3 separate regions of the Homo sapiens genome follow, and all the other regions are linked to region 2. Evidence: fine-mapped expression QTL. Tissue or cell type: esophagus muscle. Region 2 holds a variant in brackets; each other region holds the start of a gene. All regions are shown on one strand. Distances are from middle to middle.

Region 1 (2,621 bases), 69 kb after region 2:
AATAAGCATATATAAGTGTTTGTGTCAATGTGATAATAAAACCTATACAGTTTGGGGCTTTCATTGTCACCAAAAACGTCCAGAAGGCCATTCCTTCCAGGAGCTGCTCCTAAGGAAGTCATTAACTCCCAATTTTTCACAACTGCCAGGTTGATTAACTAGAAGTTACCAAACAGGGTGAGGGATATACACAACTCTCTGAAGTATCTTTGCAACTTTTCCATAAATCTACAATTACCCTAAAATATAAGGTTTATTAAAGAGAGTGGGGTGGGGGGAGCATCTGCCGGGATGCTATTCTGGATTTCCCAAAGGATTTCTTCGACGCCAGAGGAGGTCATGAGCGTCACGTCCTTTTTCAACAAGGACTGAGATGTTTAGAGGTTCCCTTCAACTTCCACTCGCAAGAGCCACCCTTAGACAGTGAGGATTGGCGCGGCCTCGGGCAAAGAGCCCCGGCGCGTTCTCAGCTCGCCTGGACTTCGGTCGTGGTCCCCGCCGGCTCTGGCGCCTCATTTCCTCCCGGGCTCACAGGCGACATTCCGGGCGCTGACCCACGGCCCTCTGACGCCGTGGGCATGTTTCGGGCCCCCCGCCCCCGCACGCCTGGACGCCAGCCTCCTGGGCTCTTCCCACTACAAGTCGCAGCCCTCTTACTTCGCTGCCGCCACCTCCGCCGCACCCGGAGTTCGGGAAAACCCCGCAGCTCCCGGGTCCCACCTCGAACCGGCCCCAGTACCGGGCCCCAGAGATCCCGCGCGGGAAGCCGCAGCCGCCGAGCGCGGGGCCTCGCGAGGGCAGCCCCCAGCACCCACCCCAGCTTCGGCCCTCCGCCCGGCGTTGACCTCCGGGGCCTTTCAGCCGTGACCCTCACCGCCCTCAGCCCTCCGGCCGCCCCTCGGGCCCCGAGGGTCGCACTCACCCGTAGGCGCGGCGCCCCCGCCCCCGCCCCCGCCGCCGGCGCAGAGCAGCAGCGCCCACAGCCCGCAGAGCCGCGCCGGCCACTCCATGCAGCCTCTCGCCTCGGAGCCCGGCCGGGCTGGAGCCTTGGCAGTCCCCGCCTCCTTCGCTCCCTCTTCCACTTCCCGGCTCCGCCGCCCTGGAGGCTGGGGGCCGGCGCAGACGGGAAGGGCCGCCCCGCCCACCGGCCTCAGGTAACCTGAGCCGGCGAGAGCGGCCGGAGGAGGCGGGGCGGGGCGCCGGCGGCTCTGGCGGCTCTGGCGGCTCCTACGGCTCCCAAGGCTGGACACCTGGCCCACCCGCAGCTCCCGCGTCCGGTCTCTGACCGAACAAAACTTCTTCCACCACGTCGCCGCCCACTCCGGGCGCTGCCTGGGCCTCCTCCCTCCGCGTGGCGGAGCCGGCGTCGCCGCTGCCAGCACACTTGCGGGGCCTCGGAGGTGCTAGGGGCTGTGCCCTGCTGGACACCAGGACAGAGTCATCTGCGGAAAAGAGCCTTGGCCTGGGAGTCTGGAGACCTGGCTTCCAGCCCTTGACCTCTGAGCCCTTGTTTGCTAGCGCTGACTCCAGGGTTAGTAATACCAGCCCTACTTCACTGGGTGGAGTTGGGGACACTGGCAGTACTGTGCTTTGTGAAAAGGACAAAGGGCATATTTGAAAGCTGGCAATACATAATGTTGATTTTAAAAGGAACATTCCAAACATGAGGGAGGATACCATACGTGCATTTTTTAAAGCACACGACAAACTTTCTACATATTTTTCAAAGGGATGGGAGGTGAATCGGAAGAATACACATTGATACTTGGGCGCCTATGAGGGTCAGTGAGGCTGGGAGGAAGGAAAACAAGAGTCCTTAGGCGTTTCCTGTTGCTGCTGTCAAAAATGACCACAAATTTAGTGATTTAACAGTTTTATTTTATTACAGTTCTGGAGGTCAGAAGTGACACTGAGCTTAAATCAAGGTGTGGGCAGAGATGTATTCCTTCTGGATATTCTAGGGGAGAATCTGTGTCTTTGACTTTTCCAGCTTCTAGAGGCTACCCACATTCCTTGGCTTGTTGCGGAACTACTCAGACCTCTGCTTCCCTTGTCGTATCTGACTCTGACCCTCTTACTTCCCCTTTTCCCTTATAAATACCCTTGTGATTAGATTAGGTCCACCAGATAATTCATAATAATCTCCCCATCTCAAAATCCTTGATTTAATCATAACTGAAAAGTCATTTTTGCTATGTAAGTTAACATATTCACAGGTGTTGGGGATCACGATATGGAATCATGGGAGGGGGACATTATTCTATCACCTTCTCCCAAAAAAGAATCATGTCTAGGTGGATGATGAGACCCATAATGAGGTGTATTTTGGCCGAATTAAGCCAATGCATATACCTGAAAACAGTTACAAAAAGTATAGCAATAAAAATGCTGATAATATACCTAGTCTAGACCCCACCCAAAGGGCACAGGGTTGTTTAACCTATTCACAACAAAGGTTCCACTCTTGGAATTAAGGCTCTCAAACTCAATAAATATTTATGAAATTGTTCCAGGAACTGTTGAAGACACTCACCAAAAGCAAGCTCTGCTAACAGAAAGCTGCAGTCAGTCTGAGGGGCAATGATAAGGGCAAGAACAAGGAATTATGGGATACAAAAAGG
Region 2 (2,500 bases):
TTCTTGATTTGTAAAACAAAAATCATCTTAACCTTTATTGGATGTCAAAATTAATAGAGCTAATCTAGTCCAACCTCCTCATTTTACAGATGAGAACGCTGATGCCTAGAGCTAGTGTTTATAGCAAAGATTCTCACTTCCAAATGAACTCCACAACCTATGGTCACCATTAGGAGTCATGGATGGGATTATACATCACTGTCTAACACCTTCATTTTACAGATAGGGAAACAGACCCAGACAGAGAAAGTTATCTGCCCACATTCATTTGGAACTCCTAAATGATAATCCAGGTTTCTTTCCCCTATACAAAGTAGCCTTCCCTTAACTAACCACCTGATACTAAGCCAAATCTTATTGACTTCTAAATTCCTATTACATAACACATTGTCTAGCTCGTAGATAAATGAATGCACAAATGAATCTCTTAAAAGACACTATAGGCCAGGCACGGTGGCTCACGCCTGTAATCCCAGCACTTTGGGAGGCCGAGGCGGGCGGATCACCTGAGGCCGGGAGTTCGAGACCAGCCTGACCAACATGGAGAAACCCCATCTCTACTAAAAATACAAACATTAGCCGGGCGTGGTGGCGGTCACCTAGTCTCAGCTACTTGGGGGGCTGAGGCAGGAGAATCCCTTGAACCCGGGAGGCAGAGGTTGTGGTGAACTGAGATTGTGCCATTGCACTCCAGCCTGGGCAACACGAGCAAAATCCCGTCTCAAAAAAACAAAACAAAACAAAAAAGATGCTATAAAATGCTCACTTTGCAATTAATGATTTAAAATCAGAAATCTTCCAGTTGATAAGCAATTTGGCAAAATGCGAAATAAGATGTTTTTTTCTTTAGGTAACTGCCTTTTGGGGACAAGTAAATATACCACTGACTATATTATACAGGCTTTAAAGTCAGGCTGACTTGCTTCCCAATTTTGTCTTAGTCTCTTACTAGCTATGTGATCTTGCATACACAGCTCAATCGCTCTATGTCTCAGTTTCTTCATCTGTAAAATGACGTTAACAACACAACCTAACTCATGGGACCAGCATACAGATTATGTGAAATCACACATGTAACTCGGCACATAGGAGCCACTCAGAAACTATTAATTTTCTTTTTATAATGGTCTACCCAATAAATGCTGAAAACCAGCAGTTAAATATTTTCCTGTTGCTAATGGTAAACTAAAAATGTGACCGTTAGGAAAGATAGTAAAAAGCCAGAGAACCTTCAAGAAGAAATCATCTTGGGGATTGATGTCAAAAATATCTAGCACATCCAAATGTCAGTAAAACTCCTCCCTTGCTTAAAGTAAAAGCATGCCAAGATTTAGCTACAGTATTTACAAAAAAGACTTTGTTTGACTCAACCGT[T/C]AGGGTTTAAAAGAAAACAGAGTCTCTGAAATAAATGTTCTTGTCCTCTTGCTTTCTTTTAAAACTACTAATAAGTTAGTAGCATAATGTGCTATTCATGTGAGCATAAGTTACACCTTCAAAAGAGCAAGAGTTCATGGAAACAAGGAAATGATAAATTCCTCTGGAAATCAAATGTGCTTAGATCACTCTGGCTCCTCTACCCCTGAGACAAAGTGATCATGTTTGTGGCTACAGGAATTTGTTTTCCATAGATCTCACACAAATTTACGACCTCAAGGGGGTTCTCAATTTTAAATGTTTTCTGTTGTAATACTCACTGTTGATGTGTTAAGAATCAGAAAAGAGGTTTCTTATTTTAAAATAACAAGAACAACAAAACAGCTACACTTACCTAGAAACGGATTTTCAGAATCTTCCTGGATAATTCCAGATAAATAACTTGACCAAGATCAGCACCCTCACTCTTTCCCTAGGGTTTGGATTCTATAAAGATTCAGGGTAATTAGCAAATGTGATCTGGCTGAAGACACACTCCTTGAGCTTAACACAAATGAGGGGAAGAAAACCTCCATGACATTAAAACCATTTTGCTGTAGTTATAGAAAATATGAAACTGTATCACCAGCTTTTAAAAGGACAGCTATTGAAAACTGATTTTTTTTTCTTTTTCTTTTTTTTTTTTTTTTTTTGAGACGGAGTCTCGCTCTGTTGCCCAGGCTGGAGTGCAGTGGCATGCTGCAAGCTCCACCTCCCGGGTTCACGCCATTCTCCTGCCTCAGCCTCCTGAGTAGCTGGGACCACAGTCGCCCGCCACTACACCCAGCTAATTTTTTTGTATTTTTAGTACAGCTGGGGTTTCACCGTGTTAGCCAGGATGGTCTGGATCTCCTGACCTCATGATCAGCCCGCTTCAGCCTTCCAAAGTGCTGGGATTACAGGCGTGAGCCACTGCGTCCAGTCAAAAACTGACTTTCTTGGTCTCTAATCTAACCTGCTAATATATTCCCTTGTGACTAGACATTGCACATCATGTATATCATTAATCATATTGCATTCCACTTTAGCTTAATATTAGAAAGGACCAACCCTCCATTTCCATTAATTATCATAACTACAATTTATT
Region 3 (2,621 bases), 27 kb before region 2:
TCATTAACCTCATGGTCTCTGGTCTCAACCACACCCCCTTCTCAAAGTGCCCCCCACGCCCGTCCCCCTTGTTATTTCTCAGATTCTTACACGAACTCTGAAACAAGAGCGCGTCTTTATTTCACTTCCAGCCTCTGCAACCAGTGCCCTCCGTGAGAAAGCTCCTCTCCGGGGTACGGTCAACCTCTGTCCACAGGGGGTCGCAGATCCGGGTCCTTGAGGTTTCAAGATTGCGCCACAGCGGAGAAGGCCAGAGAAGGGAAGGGTTAGAAGCAGCTTCACCCGTCATCCTGCTACCCACCACCTCCGCTGTTGCCAGGCGAAAAATTCTCTCTGCCCCCTCCTGACTATAAGCCAGAGACCAGCCCCCCACCCTCCAGCATTACATTTCCCCCGGGAAGCCGTCGGCCTACCAGCTCTGCAATCAGCTGCACAGAATTCAAGTTCAGATGCGGCTTTGATGGCCTGCCACGGAGAAAGGGAATAGGAGTTGGACACACCCACCCACATATTCCTCCCAGAAAGAGATGAGGAGATGCAAAGGATGTTCGAAGCAAACAGCTCGAGATTCCTCCCCCCGCTACTCCTCGCCTCTCCTCCCACCCCCAAATCCAGGCAAATCCTACCTAGCCCGCAGTATCCAGGTGAACCCCACCTCCTCCCTCAGCGCAGCCGGGCCACGAGAGTACTCCTACCCCTGCCTCACAGTCACCGATTCTCCAAGCTGGGAGCCGCCCAGTACTGGTGGGTCTTCCCCCACCCCTCTCCCCGCCGGGCAATCACACCCCCATTCTTTACCTGTGCTCCGCTGGTGGACAGCAGATGCTCCCGCGTCGCCAGCTGTGGATTCCGCCTTCTGGTCTCCGCCTTGCAGGCGGCAAAGAACTGAAGCCTCCTTGGCCGCTAAGCGACCCGGGGCTGCCCGAAGGAGCTGCTTCGCAGGGCCGCCCAACCAGGGGTAGCAGAGACGAGGCAGCGCCGTTCCTAAGGCAGCCGCGGCGGCTTTTATCCTCTGCCAGCTGAGACAAAAGAGCGTGACGAGCGGGCTAGTGCGGCCAATCAGCGAAGTGCGGGGGCGGACGCCCCGCACAGCCTTGGGCAGAGGCGAGTTTTCGCCTGAGGGGGCGGGGGCGCAGCAGGCCCGCGGAGCGTCAAGTGCAGCTTGATTAGACCGATGGAGCCAATCTGCCTGGGAATTTGCGACTCTTTCTTCCTCCCCCAACCCGTCCCTTCTCCCTGGGCTCAACTCTGCATCTTAGGCCAGGTGCATTAAACACGAAGTGGGTCCAAAATCAAGTGAATAATAAAAGTTCTTCACCTTGGTATAGGGAAAAGACGGGGAAGAGGGGAAGGGGCGGGAAGAGCATTAGCACGTGCATTGCGGAAACAGGCTTTCACACACATCTCCTCTTTTACTGTGAAAGAAGTAGCAGTATGTCCATTTAACAGAGAGGAGAGCTGGAGAACAAGGCTCTCAACCAATACCCATTCAAGTATGGGGGCAAGACATCAGAGTCATTTGGGGGAGCTTGTTAGAAATGCAGTCTTCTGGCCGGGAATGGTGGCTCACGCCTGAAATCCCAGCACTTTGGGAGGCCGAGGCGGGCGGCTCACGAGGTCAAGAGATCGAGACCATCCTGGCCAACATGTTGAAACCCCGTCTCTACTAAAAAGACAAAAAAAAAAAAAAAAATCAGCTGGGCATGATGGCGCGTGCCTGTAATCCCAGCTACTTGGGAGGCTGAGGCTAGAGAATCTCTCCAACCTGGGAGGCGGAGGTTGCAGTGAACCAAGATCGCACCGCTGCACTTCAGCCTGGCAAGGGAACAAGACTCCCTCTCAAAAAAAAAAAAAAAAAAAAAAAAAAAAAAAAAAAAAGGAAAAGAAAAGAAATGTAGGCTCTGGGCCCCAACTCTGGTGGATTCAGATTTACTAGGACTAGCGGTTGTGATGTGGTTTTGTATTTAGTATTTTTAACCGGCGCTGCGGTTGGTTCTGAGTTGTAGCAAGGTTTGTGAATAAGTAAATGAGCCTGTCTCCAATATCTGTCCACAGGTATCTGTGGTGAAATGCAACTCCAGAGCAGATGTGCCTACCTGGAATCCATGATCTTCCTGAAATTGTATGCAAAGATTTCGGACTCTGTATGAAGCTAAATAATGGCCACCCAAATGTATCAAGTCCTAATCCCTGAAACCTGTAAATGTTACCTTATAAAGTAAAATGGTCTTTGCAGGTGTGATTAAGTTAAGGCTTTTTGACTTAATTTTCCAGGCAGGCTGAAATCTAAACCACAAGTGCCCTTATAAAAGAGGGAGAGTTGGTGCACCAAGAAGAGAAGGCAATGACCAGAGATTAGTGATGTGGCCATAAGCAGAGGAATGCTAGCAGCCACCAGAAACTGGAAGAGGCAAGGAATAAAGCACAGTCCTACTGACACCTTGAATTCAGCCCAGAGAAACAGATGTTAAGCTTCTGGCTTCTAGAACTGTGAGAAATTAAACTTCTCTTGTTTTAAGCCAAGTTTGTGATAATTTGTTACAGTGCTGTTTTAGTCTGTTTGGGGTGCTATGGCAAAATACCATAGACTGGGTGGTTTATAAACAACAGAAATGTATTGC

What was found. PIP is the estimated chance that this variant, and not a neighbour inherited with it, causes the effect.
Region 1: it holds the start of IL13RA1, and the variant in region 2 is fine-mapped to the expression of IL13RA1 in esophagus muscle (GTEx, PIP 0.99). The same link has a PIP of 0.9 or more in gastroesophageal junction.
Region 3: ZCCHC12 starts here. The variant in region 2 is fine-mapped to the expression of ZCCHC12 in esophagus muscle (GTEx, PIP 0.93).

The regions. Positions count from the first base shown.
Region 1 is chrX:118,726,028-118,728,648 of GRCh38, reverse strand. It overlaps IL13RA1 (interleukin 13 receptor subunit alpha 1), which reads right to left and starts at 1,043. Exons shown (of 11, transcript NM_001560.3): 1 at 923-1,043. The coding sequence starts at 1,010. RefSeq lists a silencer at 1,005-1,434.
Region 2 is chrX:118,794,778-118,797,277 of GRCh38, reverse strand. It overlaps a transcript of IL13RA1 not described here. Among named protein-coding and RNA genes, the nearest start is that of ZCCHC12, 28 kb to the left of the region's middle. The variant T/C (reference allele first, on the strand shown) is at 1,375.
Region 3 is chrX:118,822,183-118,824,803 of GRCh38, reverse strand. It overlaps ZCCHC12 (zinc finger CCHC-type containing 12), which reads right to left and starts at 980. Exons shown (of 4, transcript NM_173798.4): 1 at 799-980; 2 at 414-465; 3 at 91-215.